2 linked regions of the Homo sapiens genome follow. The protein of the gene in region 2 interacts with the protein of the main gene of each other region in a pairwise test. Each region holds a gene or a part of one and is shown on either strand. Other genes may lie near its edges. The genes, in order: ZNF490 and TEX19.

Evidence for each region.
Region 1: the proteins of TEX19 (region 2) and ZNF490 interact in binary tests that used the Homo sapiens proteins (3 or more experiments, as listed by UniProt).

What each region holds. Positions count from the first base shown.
Region 1 is NC_000019.10:12,597,790-12,608,257, forward strand, and holds part of ZNF490 (zinc finger protein 490), read right to left. Parts: intron 1-10,468. UniProt on the Homo sapiens protein: May be involved in transcriptional regulation.
Region 2 is NC_000017.11:82,353,842-82,364,593, reverse strand, and holds TEX19 (testis-expressed protein 19), read right to left. Parts: upstream 5,348-10,752; 5' UTR 5,309-5,347; intron 2,715-5,308; 5' UTR 2,444-2,714; coding exon 1,949-2,443; 3' UTR 819-1,948; downstream 1-818.

The sequences.
Region 1 (10,468 bases), on a different chromosome or scaffold from region 2:
AAGACATTTAAAGGCCAGGCACGTTGGCTCAAGCCTGTAATCTCAGCACTTCGGGAGGATCCCTTGAGGCCAGGATTTTCACACCAGCCTGGGTAACACTGTAAGAACCCGCCTCTACAAAATTAAAAATTAAAAATTAAGAAATATAGATTCCGGCCGGGTGCGGAGGCTCTCGCTTGTAATCCCAGCACTTTGGGAGGCCGAGGCGGGCGGATCACGAGGTCAAGTGATCGAGACCATCCTGGCCAACATGGTCAAACCCTGTCTCTACTAAAAATACAAAAATTAGCTGGGCGTGGTGGCACGCGCCTGTAATCCCAGCTACTCAGGAGGCTGAGGCAGGAGAATCACTTGAACCTGGGAGGCGGAGGTTGCAGTGAGCCAAGATCGCGCCACTGCACTCCAGCCTGGTGGCAGAGCGAGACTCTGTCTCAAAAAAAACAACAATTAAAAAAAATAGCTATTGCAACAGAAGCTACTCAGGATTTTAAGAAAAAGTGTGGTTTAGACACTTAGAAATGTCTTTGGGAAAAAAAATTGTTAAGTGCACTGTAAAAGCATCACATGATCTAGCCTCATAATAATTCTCCCCTTTTTTTTTGGAGGCAGAGTTTCTCTCTTGTTGCCCAGGCTGGAGTGCAGTGGCGTGATCTCCGCTCACCGCAACCTCCGCCTCCCGGGTTCAAGCGATTCTCCCGCCTCAGCCTCCCGAGTAGCTGGAATTACAGGCATGAGCCACCACGCCCGGCTAATTTTGTATTTTTAGTAGACACGGGGTTTCTCCATGTTGGTCAGGCTGGTCTCGAACTCCCAACCTTAGGTTGGGATCTGCCCGCCTCGGCCTCCCAAAGTGCTGGGATTACAGGCCTGAACCACCATGCCCGTCAATAATTCTCCCTTTTTAAAACCCAGGATTCTGCCGGGCGCGGTGGCTCATGCCTGTAATCCCAGCACTTTGGGAGGCTGAGGCAGGCGGATCATGAGGTCAGGAGTTCGAGACCAGCCTGGCCAACACAGTGAAACCCCATCTCTACTAAAAATACAAAAATTAGCTAGGCATGGTGGCGCGCACCTGTAGTCCCAGCTACTAGGGAGGCTGAGGCAGGAAAATAGCTTGAACCTGGGAGGCAGAGGTTGCGGTGAGCCGAGACTGCATCACTGCACTCCAGCCTGGGCAACAGAGCGAGACTCCATCTCAAAAAAAAAAAAAAATTAGCTGGGTGTGGTGGCGGGGTGCCTGTGATCCCAGCTATTCTGGAGGCTGAGGCAGGAGAATCGCTTGAACCTGGGCAGTGACCCAAGATCACGCCACTGCACTCCAGCCTGGGCAACAGAGCAAGACTCTGTCTCAAAAAAAAAAAAAAAAAAAAAAAGAAAGAAAGAAAAGAAAAAAAAAGAGACATAAAGAAAGTTATAAAAATAAATAAGTATTTTTGGTTAAAAAAAGCATAAAGAAAAGATATTTTATATAAAAAAGGATCTTGTATGATAGATTCTTGTCCTAAAGAAAAATGACTGGTTGTTTAAAAAGAGGGATGTTTAGGACAAGTCAGAAAGTCAAGGCATATCATAGAGTGTAAGTCATGAAAGAATTTATGAAAGGGAACTTATGGAAGAAATGTTGTAGAATTTAAAGGTGTTTAGGCCTCCTGAATGCTTCATAAAATGCCATTATGACTCTTAACTGTACAACTGCCTGCTTTACAGCTAGGGAAGGCCTGGGACACAAGAAGTTAGATGCTAGAATGAGTCAGACCTTATCTGCACTTCTGTCTAGGTCCTAGGCTCCCCACCTGGTCCATAATTAAAATCACTTACCAGGTTTTTCACCAAAAGTAAAAGTTGCTAAGAATCAATATTGTAACATGTAATTGAGACTACTGGAAAAAACAGTTTTACATGCAAGGTGTGTAAGGAAAGTAGAGTATACTTTTGGTAAAAAGATTATAAGAAGGCATGGGAATGTGGATTTTTTTTGCCTAAATAAAAGGTTAATGGATTAAATTAGATAAAATAAAGCTGAAAGTTTAAGCAAGTTGTGGAAGGTTGATTGTAAAAGAAATTCTGTGTGTAAACATATTGGCTAAAGTTAAAGGGGGTATTATCCAGTTTTTCTGTAAATTGAATATTAAAATAAAAGCACAACGGCTTTCTTTTAGAACACTAACCTGCTCTTTAACAAAAATTGTAAAGGGTAATAAAAAATCTATAAAAATTGCCAAACATTGGCGTAAATATGTCTATAAAATTGGGTAAATATGTCTATAAGGTTTTATTAAGAATTGGGTTTAGGCCAGGCGCCGTGGCTCACGCCTGTAATCCCAGCACTTTGGGAGGCCGAGGCGGGCAGATCACGAGGTTAGGAGATCGAGACCATCCTGGCTAACATGGTGAAACCCCGTCTCTACTAAAAAAAAAACACAAAAAATTAGCCAGGCATGGTGGCGGGCACCTGTAGTCCCAGCTACTCGGGAGGCTGAGGCAGGAGAATGGTGTGAACCCAGGAGGTGGAAGTTGCAGTGAGCCGAGATGTGCCACTGCACTCCAGCCTGAGCGAAAGAGCGAGACTCTGTCTCAAAAAAAAAAAGAAAAGAAAAGAATTGGGTTTAACAGTAATAGTATACTAATGTAAATGTGAAATTTGGCTTATTTGGTACAAAAATCATAGAGGAAGCAAAGTCAAATATAAAATGGAGTATGGCTTTCTTTGGACTATATCTGTATATATATGTTATTGGTATGTGTTCCAAAATGATGGAAAACTCTTGTAATTCTGATATATCAGTGTATGTTATCAGTAATAATTATAATTATTATGTTAAATTATTGTGTGCCACAGAGTAACAGATTTCCTTGTCAATTGTGTCTTTAGCTATGGCTACCCTAAAACTTTGTCATCCATAAATAATTGTTGTCTTGTCTTGGTCCTCTTTAGAAGGTGGTTTTATAATCAGCTATAAAGCTCTAACAGGTGCTCTTGAATGCAAGTTTTAGATAACTTTGGAGATTGTGACATCAGAATAGAGAAAAAATGTTCAGGACTCTTGTCCTAGCACTTTGGGAAGCCAAGGTGGGTGGATCACTTAAGCCCAGGAGTTCCAGACCAGCCTGGCCAACATGACACAACCTGTCTCTCCAAAAAATACAAAAATTAGCCAGGTGTGGTGGTGCACGCCTGTAGCCCCAGCTACTTGGGAGGCTGAGGTGGGAGGATCCTTTGAGCCTGGAAGGCAGAGACTGCAGTGAGCTGAGGCTCACAGCTTTCCAGTCAGGGAGACAGGGTAAGACCCTGTCTCAAAAAAAAAAGAAAAAAAAAAGGCCAGGTGCGTTGGCTTACGCCTGTAATCCCAGCACTTTCGGAGGCCAAGGCGGGTAGATCACGAGGTCAGGAGATCGAGACCATCCTGGCTAACACGGTGAAACTCCGTCTCTACTAAAAATACAAAAAATTAGCCAGGCGTGGTGGCGGGCACCTGTAGTCCCAGCTACTCGGGAGGCTGAGGCAGGAGAATGGTGTGAACCCGGGAGGCGAAGGTTGCAATGAGCCGATATTGCGCCATTGCACTCTAGCCTGGGTGACAGAGCAAGACTCCGTCTGAAAAAAAAAAAACAAAAACAAAGAATTGGGGTCTCACTCTGTCACCCAGGCTAGACTAGAGTGGTACAATCATAGCTCACTGCAGCCAAAACTCCCAGGCTCCAGCAATCCTCCTCCCTCAGCCATCAAGCAGCTGGGACTACAGGTGTATGCCACAAACCTGGCTAATTTTTTTTTATAAGATATGAGGTTGCACTATATTGCCCAGGCTGGTCTTGAACTCCAGGACTCAGATGATCATGCCACTGTGCTCGGCCCAATTTTATTATTTTTTGTATGTCTATCCAACTGTCACAACACCAATTTATGAAAATAATATTCTAGGCCAGGTGCGGTGGCATAGGCCTGTAATCCCAGCACTTTGGGAGGCCAAGGCGGGCGGATCACGAGGTCAGGAGATCGAGACCATCCTGGCTAACATGGTGAAACCCTGTCTCTACTAAAAATACAAAAAAAATTAGCCGGGCTTGGTGGCAGGCTCCTGTAGTCCCAGCTACTCAGGAGGCTGAGGCAGGAGAATGGCGTGAACCCGGGAGGCGGAGCTTGCAGTGAGCCGAGATCGCACCACTGCACTCCAGCCTGGGCGAGAGAGCAAGACTCTGACTCAACAAAAAAAAAAGAAAAAAGTAAAAAAAGAAAATAATATTATTTCCCGATTCCTGGCACCGTTTTTGAAACTCAGTTCACTATATACACACACACACACACACACACACACACACACACACACACACACACACATATATGGGCCTATTTCTGGAATTTCAATTTCATGCCATTGATCTCTATGTCTGAATTGCCTCATGTATTTGATATGAAAATTTTGCTGCTACTGGAGACTGGGTGACATAAATTAAATTGTATATCAGAAAACCTTTGGCTGGCGCGGTAGCTCCCGCCTGTAATCCCAGCACTGCGGGAGGCCGAGGCAGGAGGATTACCTGAGGTCAGGAACTTGAGACCAGCCTGGCCAACAGGGTGAAACCCCATCTCTACCAAAAAAATAAAAATAATTAGTTGGGCATGGTGGCAGGCACCTGTAGTCCCAACTATGTAGGAAGCTGAGGCAGGAGAATCACTTAAACCCAGGAGACAAAGGTTGCAGCGAGCCGAGATGATGCCACTGGACTCCAACCTGGGCAATAGAGCAAGACTCTGTCTCAAAAAAAGAAAACCACTGAGGTCTTCCTAGAGGGTAATGGTCATCTACACAGTGCAGCCCATCATGTATATTTCTTTTTTTTTTTTTTTGTCGAGACAAGGTTTCACTATGGTTATGCAGGCTAGAGTACAGTGGTGTGATCTCGGCTTACTGCAGCCTTGACCTCCCAGGCTCAGATGATTCTCTCACCTCAGCCTCCCGAGAAGCTGGGCCTACAGGTGCGCACCACCACGCCGGGCTAGTTTTTTGTATTTTTAGTAGAAACAAGGTTTCGCCATGTTGGCCAGGCTGGTCTCAAACTCCTGGGCTCATGCAATCCACCTGCCTCAGCCTCCCAGAGTGCTGGGATTACAGGTGTGAGCCACCACACCTGGCCCCATCATGGGTTTTTCTTATGTGCAGAGTACTTATTCAAATCCACAGTGATTTCCCAGTTGACACACAGACAAGAACTATGGATTCTTAGAGAATATCCAAGTTATAATTGAATCAAACTGCAGAGAGAGGGTATCATTTTGAGTACCACCCCCCAGTTTGGTGGAAAAGAAAGTTGTGATATTGTGAAATATATAATTTGGGTTTTGTCCAGGGTTCCTGGCTCACAGTTGCTAAAAACCTTGTAATTTCCTAAGCGACTAGAGCAATTGGAGTATCTTTTGTTAAAATATTTGGGCTGCCTGTAATCCCACCATGTTGGGAGGCTGAGGCAGGCAGGATGCTTGAGCCCAGGAGTTCAAGACCAGCCTGGGCAACACAGTGAGATCCTATCTCTACAAAAAATACAAAAATTGGCCAGGCATAGGGGTGTGTGCCTATAGTCTCAGCTACTTGAGAGGTTGAGGTGGGAGGGTCACCTGAGCTCAGGGAAGTCAAGGCTGCAGTGAGCTGTGATGACACCACTGCACTCCAGCCTAGGTGACAGAGTAAGACTCTGTCTCAAAAAACAAACAACAAAAAAAAGGCTGGGCGCTGGGGCTCACATCTGTAATCCCAGTACTTTGGGAGGCCAAGGTAGGTGGATGCTTGAGCTCAGGTGTTTGAGACCAGTCTGGGCAACATGGCGAAAACCCATCTCTACTAAAAATAGAAAAAAATAGCCAGATGTGGTGGCGTGCACCTGTAGTCCCAGCTACTCAGGAGGCTGTGGTGGGATCATTGCTTGAACCCGGGGGTGGAGGCTGCATTGAGCCAAGATTGTGCCACTGTCACTGGGTGACAGAGTGAAGGAGACCCTATCTCAAAAAAAAAAAAAAATGGCCTTTTGTATTCAGTTCTTAAAATAGCTCTAGAAGAGTTCCAGAGTGACAGGTGGAAGAAATGTCTTTAGTTATTCATAACCATCCCCTTTCCACCACAGCTAAGTTTATGTTAATGGGGTGATTTTTGGAAAGCTCCTACAAACCACAGGATGTGAGGCTAGTTGCCAGGGAACCAACCATGTGACTGGAGCTTTGAAACTTTCAGCTCTGTCCCCACCTCCAGGGAGGGAAGAGAAAACTGAAGGTTGAGTTGATCACCCATAGTGAATGATGTGATTAATCATGTCACCATAATAAAGCCACCATAAAAACCCAAAAACACGGCTCAGAGAGCCTTCTGGTTGGTAAATAAGAACATAACCATATGCCTGGAGGTATCTCTTCATCTGGCTGTTCATTCGTATCATTTAAAATATCCTTTGTAGGGCCAGGTGTGGTGGCTCACGCCTGTAATCCCAGCACTTTGGGAGGCTGAGGCAGGTGGATCACTTGAGGTCAGGAGTTCAAGACCAGCTTGACCAACATGATGAAACCCCATCTCTACTTAAAATACAAAAATTAGGCCAGGTGCAGTGGCTCACACCTATAATCCCAGCACTTTGGGAGGACAAGGTGGGCGGATCATGAGGTCAGGAGTTCGAGACCAGCCTGGCCAGCATGGTGAAACCCTGCCTCTACTAAAAACATAGACACACAGAAAAAAAATTAGCTGGGCATGGTGGCATGGGCCTGTAATCCAGCTACTTGAGAGACTGAGGTAGGAGAATCACTTGACCCTGGTAGGCAGAGGCTGCAGTGAGCCAAGATTGTGCCACTGCACTCCAGCCTGGGCAAAAGAGTGAGACTCTATCTCAAAAAAAAAAAAATTAGCCAGGCGTGGTGGTGGGCGCCTGTAATCCCAGCTACTTGGGAAGCTGAGGCAGGAGAATTGCTTGAACCTGGGAGGCAGAGGTTGCAGTGAGCTGAGATCGCGCCATTGCACTCCAGCCTGGGCGACAAGAGCAAAACTCCGTCTCAAAAAAAAAATAATAATAATAATAAATAAAATAAAATATCCTTTGTAGGCTGGGTGCAGTGGTTCACACCTGTAATGCCAGCACTTTGGGAGGCCAAGGCAGATGGATCACTTGAGGTCAGGAGTTCGAGACCAGCCTGGCCAACATGGTGAAACCCCTTCTCTACTAAAAATACAAAAATAGCTGGGCGTGGTGGAGGATGCCTGTCATTCCAGCTACTCGGGAGGCTGAAACACGAGAATCATTTGAACCCTGGAGATGGAGGTTGCAGTGAGCCAAGATCGTGCTGCTACACTCCAGCCTGGCAACAGAGTGAGACCCTGTCTCAAAATAAAGAGTAAACAAATAAATAAATAATAAAATATCCTTTGTAAGACTAGGCACAGTGACTCACTCCTATAATCTCAGTGCTTTGAGAGGAGCGAGGTGGGAGGATCTCTTGAGACCTGGAGGTTGAGACTAGCCTGGACAACAGAGCGAGACCCTAACTTTACAAAAAATAAATAATTAGTTGAGTGTGGTGGCACATGCCTATATTCCTAGCTACTTGCGGGGCTGATGAGGGAGGATCGCTTGATCCCAAGAGTTGAAGGCTGCAATGAGCTATGATCCTGCCACTGCACTCCAGCCTGGGAGACAGAGTGAAACCCTGCTCTATTAAAAAAAAAAAAAACACTTTGTAATAAATGGGTGAATGTAAGTAAAGTGTTTCTGTGAGTTCTGTAGGCTGCTACAGCAAATTAATCAAACCCAAAGAGTGGGTCATGAAAACCCTGATTTACAGCTTGTTGGTCAGAAGCATAGGTCACATCCTGGGACTTACAACTGACATTTGCAGTGAGGGGCATTCTTGTGAGCCGTTAGCTTTTGGTATTGGACTCCGTCTCCAGGTAGATACTGTCACAATTAAATTGAATTATATAGCACACCCAGCTGGTGTCTGCTTGAGAAGTGGTTATTGGTGGACCAGAAGTGAAGTATTCTGTTAAATATTTTGTTAATGGTTTTCCTATCCCTTTAAGAAAAGTGTATTTGAGACCCTCGAATAGGATTTTTTTTTAATTTAATTTTTTTTTTTGAGACAGAGTTTTGCTCTTGTTGCCCAGGCTGGCGTGCAATGATCTTGGCTCACCGCAACCTCCACCTCCCGGGTTCAAGCAATTATCCTGCCTCAGCCTCCCAAGTAGCTGGGATTACAGGCATGTGCCACCACGTCCCGCTAATTTTGTATTTTTAGTAGAAACAGGGTTTCTCCATGTTGGTCAGGCTGGTCTCAAACTCCCGACCTCAGGTGATCCACCCACCTCGGCCTCCCAAAGTGCAGGGATTACAGGCATGAGCCACCGCGCCTGGCCTAAAATAGGATTTTTTTTTTTTTTCATTTTAGAGACAGAGACTCACTCTATTGCCCAAGCTGGAGTGCAGTGGCACAATCATAGGTCATTGTAGCCTCCAACTCTTGGACTCAAGGGATCTCTGCTATGGGACTACAGGCACATGCCACCACCCTGGGTAATTCTTTTTTTTTTTTTTTTTTTGAGACAGGGTCTCTATCTGTTGCCCAGGCTAGAGTGCAGTGGCATGATCTCAGCTCACTGCAACCTCTGCCTCCTGAGTTCAAGCAATTCTTCTGCCTCAGCCTGCTGAGTAGCTGGGACTACAGGTGTGCACCACCATGCCCCGCTAATTTTTTGTATTTTAGTAGAGATGCGGTTTCGCCATGTTGGCCAGGCTGGTCTTGAACTCCTGACCTCAAGTGATTTACCCACCTCAGCCTCCCAAAGTGCTAGGATTACAGGTGTGAGCCACTGCACCTGGCCAATTTTTTTTATTTTTATAGAGACAGGATTTCACTCTGTTGCCCAGGCTTTGATGTCCTTTTATAAAAGGAATCACTGGAAGATTTTTATTTTAATGATCAGCAAAGGCCTAAAAGTCCATGACCATTCACAAGTATCATTTCCATATGGTAGATTTCCAGCACATGTTAGGAAAGAAAAAAAATGAACAGCTTTGTGTTTTACTAAAGAACAAATAAAATCCCATTTTTATTCAATATTTCAATAATTTATGTTTGCACATCACTGTGGTGACTAATGTGATTTCATAATCATTAGTATTTCATTTGATTAGCCCCACCCAATCATACCTCCCATCTTGCAAATGAAAAAAGTTAAGTATGGAGAGCACAAAGTCTTGTCTAAACTCATATGGCTCATAAGTAATAATGAAATTGGCCAGGTGTGGTAGCTCACGCCTACCATCCCAACACTGGGAGGCTGATGTGGGAGGATCACTTGAGTCCAGGAGTTCAAGATCAGCCTGGGCAACATAGCAGGACCCTGTCTCTAAAATTTAAAAAATTTAAATTTTTTTTTTTTTTTGAGGTGGAGTCTCACTCTGTCACCCAGGCTAGAGTGCAGTGGCATGATCTCGGCTCACTGCAACCTCCACCTTCTGGGTTCAAGCAATTCTCCTGCCTCAGCCTCCCAAATAGCTGGGATTACAGATGTGCACAACCACACCTGGCTAAAAAAAGAATTTTTTTAAAATTAGCCAAGCGTGGTGGCGCACACCTAGTCCTAGTTCCAGCTACTAGTCCCAGCTACTAGGGAGCCTGTGAAGTTGAGTCTACAGTGAGCTGTGATCTTGCCACTGCACTCCAGCCTGGGTGACAGAACATAATAGTAATAGTAATACAATATAATAACAGTAATAATAATGGAACTTCTCAGTATTAAAGTCCAAATGTGTGCCACCACATATACTGAGCACTGTCAAAAACTGAAAACTCAGGCCAGGCATAGTGACTCACACCTGTAATCCCTGCACTTTGGGAGGTTGAGGCAGGAGAATTGCTTGAAGCCAGGAGCTTGAGACCAGCCTGGGCAACACAGCAAGATCCCTGTCTCAAAAAAAAAAAAAAGGAACAAACAAGAACAGCATAGCATCTGCAGACAGAGAAGCAGCAGCAAATCAGTGGAGGCCAGGATTGATAGCTTCCCCATTTCGGGTTTTGGTAGACAGGAAGGACGGTGACCCAGACACTGAAAAATACCAGCATGCTGAACTTAAGGATTGGCTTATTGAAAATGTCAGGCAAGTTCCTGGCCAGAAAAGCCACATTGAAGCTCCCATGAGCCAAGGAACCCAGGATTCACAGAACAGTCAATAACCAAATCGTGGTTTTATGTGAAGATGACATATTCAGGCTCAGATTATGTATCCACATGCATGAAGGCTGTAGTCATTCCCCATGAAATTCCTCCCACTTCAGCATCCCAAAGTGTTGGGATTACAGAGTCACTTAGATCAGGGAACTGATAGCAATGACAAAATTAGGTACCCCCGACACTAACCCGTGCCTTATCCGTCTCTTGCATGTTTACCTTGAAGGTCAGAACTGCAGTGATCGTTTTGTCCAAACTATGCA
Region 2 (10,752 bases):
TGGCTGTTCTTTAAGTATGTATTTTTATTTATTTATTTTTATTTTTTGATATAGGGTCTCACTGTTGCCCAGGCTGGAGTGTAATGGCATGATCTTGGCTCACTGCAGCGTGAACTCCCAGGCTCAAGCAATCCTCCCACCTCAGCCTTCCAAGTAGCTGGGACTACAGGCACACACCACCACGCCTGGATCATTTTTGTATTTTTTGTAGAGATAGTGTTTTGCCACGTTGCCCAGGTTGGTCTCAAACCCCTGAGCTCGTGATCCACCCGCCTCGGCCTCCCAAAGTGCCGGGATTACAGGCATGTGCCACCTCGCCTGGCCTATTTTATTTTTTGATACAGGGTCTTGCTCTGTCGCCCAGGCTGAAGTGCAGTGGTACAATCACAGCTCACTGCGGTCTTGACCTCCTGGACTCAAGCAATCCTCCTGCCTCAGCCTCCTGAGTAGATGGGACTACATGTGCATGCCACCACACCCAGCTAACTTTTTTTATTGTTAGTAGAGATGAAATCTCACTATGATGCCGAGGCTGGTTTCGAATTCCTGGGCTGACCTAATCCCAAAATGCTGGGGTTATAGGCATGTGCCACTGTGCCTGGCCCTGTATTTCTTTATAAATAATGTGAAACAAACTCCCATGATGAGCCTGGAAACCGACCAGAACCCTCATCTCTCCCGTGCTCCTCTTCCCTTCTATCCTCTGTTCCCACCATTTGGTGGGATTTCAAGCCAGCAAAGTGGCTTAGCCCAGATACTGAGAGGACAAGGATAAGGCCAATCAACAAAACTTGCTGAGGAATGACTTACACAGGAGCTTGTTTGAAAGCTTTTATGACTTTTTAAAATTAAAAACAACATATAGAGCAACAGGAATTAAATGGTTAAATTGCATCAACGGCCAACATTTAAAACCAGCTCTCCCTCCACTGTAGACCAGAGATCCTAGTGCTGCTGACAGGGTCTTGTGGCACCCCTGAGATTGTCCTGGCAAAGTCGAGAACACATCCAGGTCACCACAGATTCTGGTGTGTTCTGCAGAGCATGTGTTTTACAAGCAATGTCCCTCCCCATGGCCAAGGTGAAATAGGCACAAGTTCTGTGCCCTGCCCCCCATGTCACAAGCAGCACAACAGCCATTCAGGCCAACACATCCAGAACTATGTGACAATCAACTGGTAAGAACTTGTTTCCAGGTTATGAATATTTGTAATGCTTCCCTCTGAGGCCACAACAGGCCCTATCTCCCAGCCCCTAAAGTTGCTCCCCATGTTTCCTTTGCCAACTGCTCCCCTGGCTGTTGTGGAACAGCAATTGCTGGCCCTTCCCAGTCTCTGATGTCCTGGTGTGCCCAGGACAATGGCAGCTACATGAGCCTTAGTCTCTCAGTTCTGGGGCCCTGGACTGAGGCTGGAAACAGGGCAGCTCCCCCATGGCCGAGGCTCCTGCAACAGCCAGGCTTTCCTCAGGACCCCTGCTCTGTGTCTCAGGGGTGCTGAGATCCTGTTCTTGGCTGGAGGACTGTGGCTTACAGGCTGAGTCTCCCTTCTTGCTCTCCCTGTTGGTCCAGGGTGAATAAGAGACTATGGTGAATCCTCTTCTGCAGGGCTGAGGCTGCAGGGACCAGCTCTGCCCTGTGTCCTGTTAACGATGTTTCTAGAATGCTCAGCATCCACCAGTGCAGGTCCTGCTCTTGGGGTGCATCTTGGAGTCTCACCACCCACACTTCACCAGGCTCCAGCAGCAATTTCCAGTGCTGCCCTGGGGTCCTCAGGGCCCTGTCTGGGGTCATCTTCTGTAGGTAGATGGTATCATAGCAGCCCACCATGGAGACAAGCTGCAGGGCCAGTAACTAGGCCTCAGCCTCGGCAGGGTCCACTGCCCAGGTAATGCCCAGCTTCAACACCACGGGCTCCCCTGGGGGCAGGTCCACTTTGAGAAACCCCTGCTATGAAGGAAAGAAGCTTGGCCAGTGTGAGCAGGTAAGAAGCTCCTCAAATCTCCAGGGAAGACCCTGGGTCCAGTCAGCATCCTCAAGGCCCAGGCCCAGGGGCACAGCCTCCTGAGGCCATAGTTCAGTGGGGACAAAGTGGGGGTCCAGACCTGCATCTTCCAACCCTTCTGGGGCTGCTGCCAGGGTCCCTGGCCCCCATGCCTCAGAGCCCCCCTGCACAGGCTGTCCTGGGCTCTGCCCCCAGCTCAGCTCCATCCCTGAGGACCCCTCCTGCTCTGACTCTGCCTCAGTGTGCTCCATCAGCTCAGGGTCCCAGTTGTCTTCTTCCCAGTCCTCTGACTCCAGCAAGTCTTTAAAGTCTAGAAAGGCAGCCTTGAAGCAGGTGAAGCAAATGCTTAGCTGATCTCCATGTTGAAGCTGATACATCCAGGAGGCGTAGAGGTAGGACATGCCCTCTTCCTCATACCGCATGCTGACCGGAGGGCACATGGCCAGGCTGCCTGCCTACTGCCGGGGTGGACAGCAAGAGCTGGGCCTTCAGAGGATCTTGGACGGTCTGGCCACAGGTGCTGAGGCCAGTAGGATGCTGGGCGGCAGGGATGAAGGGGACAAGGAGCAGGAGGAGAAAGGGGTTTCCTATCCAGGGATTTGGGGTGGGGTGGATGACCTGGGTCCCAGCTCAGTGGGGACCTGCAGAGGGTGGAAGCTTGAACTTCTGGAAATGTCTTCAGCTTCTGCAGTTGCTGTGGTCTCAGGAGAGCTGGAAAGGCAAAGGAAGGGAGGTTAGGCACCCCCAGCAGGCAGGGTGGGGGCAAACTGTGGGGACCAGCAGGGGCAGGGATGTTGGGGTTCAGACTGGCCCTTTAGTGGGGACCCTGCTCAGTTTGAACAGCACCGGGGCTGGGAGGCCTTCAGTTCCTCCATCCGACCTCCCCGGGCTCATCAGCCACCCCCTACACCTCAGGGACCCCAACAGCCCATCAGCTTCACCTGACAGAACCTGGGGGAACATGAGGGAAACTGGCAGAGCCTGAGGGGACCTGATGGAAATTGAGGGAACCTGAAGGAAACTGGGGGAACCTGAGGGAACCTGAGGGAAACTGGGGGAACCTGAGGGAAACTGGGGGAAACTGAGGGAAACTGGGGGAACCTGAGAGAAACTGGGGGAAACTGAGGGAACCTGAGGGAAACTGGGGGAAACTGAGGGAACCTGAGGGAAACTGGGGGAACCTGAGGGAAACTGGCAGAGCCTGAGGGGACCTGATGGAAATTGAGGGAACCTGAAGGAAACTGAGGCAACTTGAGGAAACCTAAGGGAAACTGAGGGAAACTGGGGGAACCTGAGGGAAACTGGGGGAAACTGAGGGAAACTGGGGGAACCTGAGGGAAACTTGAGGGAAACTGGGGGAAACTGGGGGAACCTGAGGGAAACTGGGGGAAACTGAGGGAACCTGAGGGAAACTGGGGGAACCTGAGGGAAACTGGCAGAGCCTGAGGGGACCTGATGGAAATTGAGGGAACCTGAAGGAAACTGAGGCAACTTGAGGAAACCTGAGGGAAACTGAGGGAAACTGGGGGAACCTGAGGGAAACTGGGGGAAACTGAGGGAACCTGAGGGAAACTGAGGGAACCTGAGGGAAACTGGGGAAAACTGAGGGAACCTGAGGGAAACTGGGGGAACCTGAGGGAAACTGAGGGAACCTGAGGGAAACTGGGGGAACCTGAGGGAAACTTGAGGGAAACTGGGGGAAACTGAGGGAACCTGAGGGAAACTGGGGGAACCTGAGGGAAACTGGGGGAAACTGAGGGAACCTGAGGGAAACTGGGGGAACCTGAGGGAAACTGGGGGAACCTGAGGGAAACTTGAGGGAAACTGGGGGAACCTGAGGGAAACTGGGGGAACCTGAGGGAAACTTGAGGGAAACTGAGGGAACCTGAGGGAAACTGGGGGAACCTGAGGGAAACTTGAGGGAACCCGAGGGAACCTGAGGGAAACTGGGGGAACCTGAGGGAAACTGAGGGAACCTGAGGGAAACTGGGGGAACCTGAGGGAAACTGGGGGAACCTGAGGGAAACTTGAGGGAAACTGGGGGAAACTGAGGGAAACTGGGGGAACCTGAGGGAAACTGAGGGAACCTGAGGGAACCTGAGGGAAACTGGGGGAACCTGAGGGAAACTTGAGGGAACCTGAGGGAAACTGGGGGAACCTGAGGGAAACTGAGGGAACCTGAGGGAAACTGGGGGAACCTGAGGGAAACTTGAGGGAAACTGGGGGAAACTGAGGGAAACTGGGGGAACCTGAGGGAAACTGAGGGAACCTGAGGGAAACTGGGGGAACCTGAGGGAAACTGGGGGAAACTGGGGGAACCTGAGGGAACCTGAGGGAAACTGGGGGAACCTGAGGGAAACTTGAGGGAAACTGGGGGAAACTGGGGGAACCTGGGGGAAACTGGGGGAACCTGAGGGAAACTGAGGGAACCTGAGGGAAACTGGGGGAACCTGAGGGAAACTTGAGGGAAACTGAGGGAACCTGAGGGAAACTGGGGGAACCTGAGGGAAACTTGAGGGAAACTGGGGGAAACTGGGGGAACCTGGGGGAAACTGGGGGAACCTGAGGGAACCTGAGGGAAACTGGGGGAACCTGAGGGAAACTTGAGGGAAACTGAGGGAACCTGAGGGAAACTGGGGGAACCTGAGGGAAACTTGAGGGAAACTGAGGGAAACTGGGGGAACCTGAGGGAAACTGGGGGAACCCGAGGGAAACTTGAGGGAAACTGGGGGAACCTGAGGGGAACTTGAGGGAAACTGGGGGAACCTGAGGGAAACTGGGGGAAACTGAGGGGAACTTGAGGGAAACTGAGGGAACCTGAGGGAAGCTGGGGGAAACTGAGGGAACCTGAGGGAAACTGAGGGAAATTTGAGGGAAACTGGGGGAAACTGAGGGAAACTTGAGGGAAACTGAGGGAACCTGAGGGAAACTGGGGGAACCTGAGGGAAGCTGAGGGAAACTTGAGGGAAACTGGGGGAACCTGAGGGAAACTTGAGGGAAACTGAGGGAACCTGAGGGAAACTGAGGGAAACTTGAGGGAAACTGAGGGAACCTGAGGGAAACTGAGGGAACCTGAGGGAAACTGAGGGAAACTTGAGGGAAACTGAGGGAACCTGAGGGAAACTGAGGGAAATTTGAGGGAACTTGGAGAACCTTAGGGAACCTGAGGGAAACTGAGGGAAATTTGAGGGAAACTGAGGGAACCTGAGGAATCCTGGCCCCGCTTCAGCCTCCCAACCCCTCACCCAGCACCAGGCCGTGTCTCCGAGACCCCTCCTCAGAGACCCCTCCTCGGGAGATCTCACCATCCTGGTGTCTCTGTTCATGTGGGCACCCAGGGAAAGGAGGAGGCAGAGCCCATTTGGGTATATAAAGGGCCATTTCCCATGGTGCTCTGGGCTCATCTGCATATCTCCCATGAGCCTCAGTTTCCAGGAAATGAAAGTGCTGAGTCACCAGCTCCCTCCAAGGAGGGCCATGTGCAGCCCCTGGGCACCTGCAGGAAGGCCCTGGAGAGGCAGCTCCTCTGGGGGCTGGAGATTGGGGTGGGTGCTCTCCGTCTGCAGGCTGGCACAGGGTGAGCATCCAGCCTGTGGTTGCTGGCCCGTCGTGGGCACGACGTCCTGGTCCTGCCGCGTTTGTAAAACGTGATCCCTGCTTTGCTGTCTCTGTCTTAAAGTTCTCTGAATTTTAAGAACCAGCCAATTGTCAATTAGTTATTGTTTAAACACATTTTCCCCTTTGTGGTTCATCTCTTCGCTCTTTAAACAAGACGCTTATAAATTAACACTTGTTTTTTCAGTAGACTCTATTTTTTACAGCAGTTTTAGGTTCATAGCAAAATTGAGCCAAAAGCATGGAGCTCTCCCACCGCTCCCCTGCTCCTGCAGGTGCACAGCCTTCCCCAGTCCTCCCGTCCCAGCCATTTGTTACACGTTGTTATTATCATCATCGCCCTCTGCAGTTTCCATTATGCTTTCCTCCGGTGCTGTGCATTCTGCAGGTTTGGACACATGTATAATCATGCAGACCCACCACTCTAATATTGTACAGACGGGTTTCTCCGCCCCGATTCATCTGTGTTCTGCATTTTCATCACTCCCTCTCCCAGCCCCTGGCAACCAGGAATCTTTTGACTGTCTCCTTAATTTTGCCTTTTCCAAAATGTCACAGAGCTGGACTCATACATTATGTAGCCTTTTCAACTTCTTTTTTAGTAATACGCACTTTGGTTCTTCCATGTCTTTTGTGGTTTGATAGTTCACTTCTTTTTTTTTTTTTTTTTTTTTTTGAGACAGAGTCTTGCTCTGTCACCCAGGCTGGAATGCACTGGTGAAATCACAGCTACTACAGCCTCAACCTCCTGGGCTCCTGTGATTTTCTCACCTCAGCCTCCCAAATAGCTGGGACTACAGGTGCTGGTGCACACCCCGATAAGTTTTGTATTTTTTGTGAGACAGGGCCTCACCATGTTGCCCACACTGGTATCAAACACTTGGGCTCAAGTGATCCGCCTGCCTCTGCCTCCCACAGTGCTGGGATTACAGACGTGAGCCACCTTGCATGGCCAGCTCACTTATTTTTTAACACTGAATGGTATTCCATTGTCTGGATGTACCATGGTTTATTTATCCATTCACCTATGGAAAGACATCTTGGTTGCTCCCAGGTTTGGGCAATTATGAATAAAGCTACTACAAATATTCATGTGCAGGTGTCTGTAGACATAAGTTCTCAACTCATTTTGGTAAACTCTAAGGAGTGAGATTGCTGGATGCTGTGGTCAGAGTGTGTTTAGTTTTGTAAGAAAGTGACAAATTGTCTCACACAGTGGCCCTGTGGGAGGAACCCCCAAACCCTTTCCCTACATCCCCATGACCTCTGCTCCTCCCCACCTGGCAGCTGTCTGTGCCTGGCTCAGGTCATCCACACACCTGGGGCTGCCTGCCACCCCCACCAGGTTAGGGCTCAGATCAGGGCCACCCCTCACCCTGGGGCTTCCTCGTCCCAGTCCTGGGATAGGGGCAGGTGTGGGGCTTTGGCTGCCAGGTGTCCTGCTGTGGGTGGAGAGGGCAGTGAGCTCATTCCCTAAAGACTCGGGTGCCTGAGCTGTCTGGCTGGTCCCCTCAGGTGAGAGGAAAGTAGTGGTTGAGGGACCCCACAGAGAAGCCTGTTTATGGGTCTGGGGGTCAGAGGCTCCCGGGAGGAGCCCCCAGGTCCTGGTTTTCTCTGAAAAGGCCACTCAAGGCCTCGGGGCTGAGCTGTGGCTGCCCTGGCCAGAAGGGGGCCGGGGAGGGAGCCCTGCACCTGTCGTGAACACTCAGGGCTGGGCCAGTGGGCGCCTGGAGGATGAGGTCCCTCCCACCTGGCCCCTCCCAGCCTCAGTTCTCAGGACACAGCCCAGCCGGCAGCTGCCAGAGTCACTGCCTAAAGGAGGTTTTGACCGAGGAGCAGCAGAGCCCTCTGAGGGCCCCTGTGGTAAGCAGGCTCCTCGCTGGTTTGCATGGCTTTTTCACACAGTAGTTGCGTCGAGAATTTAATATGCTGCGACCTCGTTGCCAGCAGGAGCGGTGTGGGACCGGGAAGCTGACGGGGAAGTGTTGGCGGGTGCAGGGCAGCGTCCACTCTGGGAAGCTGTGGCCAGCGCGTCCTGGCCAGCCAGGGCCTGGGCAGGGACTTGCCTCTCGGGCCTCGGCCTCACCCTGGTCTGAGAGTGTAGGACCCTCTCAAGGTCCTCAGTCACCTCAGCAGCCTGGGACGGAGCCTTTGGATCGCTTCCTGGGCAGCTGGGTACAGGAGAGGCCACTTGAGACAGATGTTGGGATGGACAGCTGGATTTGAGGCCCAGAGGGAAACCGTGGCAAGACTTGGTGGGTGGATGGTACCAGAGGAACAGGACGTGGCCATAATCGGGGAATCCAACACTCCTGTATCTCCAGAAGGACCAGGCATTTCCCCAGCTGCAGAGACCACTGATGGGGCAGCACAGCCATTGTGGGGCCAAGGCCATGACCCGGAGCCACTGGGGCCGTAAGCCTGACACCCAGATTGCCCACGAGCCAGAACCCCATCCCCACCATCCTGGGGTGCACAAGCTCTTGTGTTAGGAACGGGTGAAGAGGGGGAGCTCAGGAAGCTGAACGCAACCCAGAGGGGGTGGACAAGCAGGGACAAGGCTGCCAGATGGGCCTGGCCAAGCTCAGGGGCCCCCAGCTACCTCGGGGGTGCAGGTGCCAGCTGAGCCCTGCAGAGGAATGGGGTGAGGCCACGTCACGCTCTTTGAGCACCGGCTTCCGAGCTCAAGCGGCTTCGTCTCTGTCTCACCCAGAATGCCTCGCGCAGATCCGGGGCCCAGAGAACATTCCAGAGATGCTTGTGGAGTGGAGCAGCTTTAATAAGACACATTCTTGCTTCTCTGTTGGCTTCTTACCTGTGTCCTCGGGATGGCTGCCAAGGTGCTACCAACCTGCTGCATCCCTGGCTGAGGCTCAGAGCCTCCTGGGCTGGTGCCTTCCTGGGCACAGGATCCCCAGCAAGTCCAGGAATCTGACCTGAGGTCACCAATCATGCCCAGGGAAACCAGCCAGCCCCCAAAGCCTCCAAAACCCAAGTGGGCTTGGTTCTGTTGGCAGGTGACCCAGCTGGAATCAAACAAGAAAGAAAAGTGTGTTTAGATCATCAGGTGACTCACCAAATAGAACTTTCTTGAAAACTGTTTAATAATCAAGACCAGGAAAAGATTATGGAATATTCTAGCAAAGTCCAAGTACTTGGATTTTAAAATCAACATTTATCTTACTGCTCTTATATTACAAAGTTCCGCCCTCACCTCCAGTCTCAACGTTTGCACAAAGCATTTCAGCAGCACATGCAATGGCGTTATGGTTGGCTTTTCCCTCTCGCTCCTCCGCACAGCACTGAAGAAGGACAGGAGCAGTTTTCTTTGTTTCTTGCATGAATTTACTACTGAGGCTCGTCAGAGAGAGGCTGCCTGTGGGAGTGATGCATGGCCTCTGCTTCCACGGAGAAAAGCCACACGGTGGTGGCCAGGGGTGGGATGCGCCCGTGGACATGGAGGACAGATGTGTTCTGAGAAGCTGCCTGTTTCTTTTGTTTGTTTTTGAGATGGACTTTCACTTTTGTTGCCCAGGCTGGAGTGCAATGGCGCGATCTCAGCTCACGCCAACCTCCACCTCCCGGGTTCAAGTGATTCTCCTGCCTCAGTCTCCCAAGTAGCTGAGATTACAGGTGCCTGTCACCATGCCCAGCTGATTTTTGTATTTTTAGTAGAGATGGGGTTTCACCATGTTGGCCAGGATGGTCTCAATCTCTTGACCTCGTGATCCACCCGCCTTGGCCTCCCAAAGTGCTGGGATGACAGGCATGAGCCACCGTGCCCAGCCGAGGTGGCTTCTTTACAACAGACTATCCAGGGGACCACAGTCACCCTCCCCTCACTCCCAGCCCACCCTTCCTGCTCATTTGCTTTGTCCACCTACTCAGCTCCGTGGCCCATTGGTGGCCTCCATCCTTCTGAAGGACCAAGAAGCCACTGCCATGTGGAAGCACCTCCACGTGCCCTGGTCAGGTCTGTCACCAGTGCTGTGTGAGGATCAGAACACCCTCGACCACACTGGCTCATCATCCAAATTGTAATCATGGACTTAGAGGCTGTCCTTTTAAAAATAACTTTTGGTATTGTTTGCTTATTTCAAAGTAAACAAATTCATTATCAAACATTTAGAAAACAGGCAAGCAAATAAGAGGAAAGAACATCACCAGTCACACATTCTCCAGAGAGTGCAAAAAGCAAGGTCTCTGTATCTTACTCTCAAGTAGGAAGAATGGTTGCAGGAGAGGAAGGAAGGAGAGAGGGCCTGGGCGCTGTACCCGGCTGTGGCCAGCTCTGTCCTGAACCCTCCTGGGGTCTGTCCTGAACCCTCCTGGGCTCTGTCCTGAACCCTTCTGGGGTCTGTCCTGAACCCTCCTGGGGTCTGTCCTGAACCCTCCTGGGCTCTGTCCTGAACACTCCTGGGCTCTGTCCTGAACACTCCTGGGGTCTGTCCTGAACCCTCCTGGGGTGGGATTTCCATAAGGTGGGCATTATTATCTTCCCTGGGCTGGGCCAGAGCCTGGTTGGGGCCTGGGGCCCCATCCTGAGTCCAGAGTCTGTGACTCCTCCATAGGCCCCAGGGCCTGTGCAGTGACAGTCCCTGAGCAGCAAAAGAGCAAATGAGTGCTGGGAATTGTGGGTCCCTTCCCTAAAAAGGCAGAGGTGGTGATCCCGCCCAGCCCAGGGTCTTCAAAACTGCAGGTACATCCTTGCTGTTCTGTCAAACACATCTGCAGATAACTTGAGTCCATCTAGGGTGGGTTTCCAGGCAGCTGGGGACCAAGTGAGGGGGTGGAGGCGGCCACGTGAGACCCCAGGAAGCAGAGCCCCCACCACCCCAGGAGATTTCTTCATCCACAGTGGCAAGGGTGGGGGCTGCCCTAAGATGTCAGCAAAGACCACCATTGGGGAAGGTCTTGGACATGACTCTGAGTGGTCCCATGGGGAAAGGGGACTGGTGTCTCCTGGAGGGAGATGCTGGAAGAAGGCCAGAGAGGAAGGATGGCCAGAAGTCCCCATTTCCATAGCCCAAACCTGTGGAAACACTGCCCCTGGGCAGCTCTGTGCCCCTGGCGACCTCCTGGTATGATGCAGCTTAGAAAGAAGCTGCCTGTCTCTCCATTGCCAGCCTTTTCT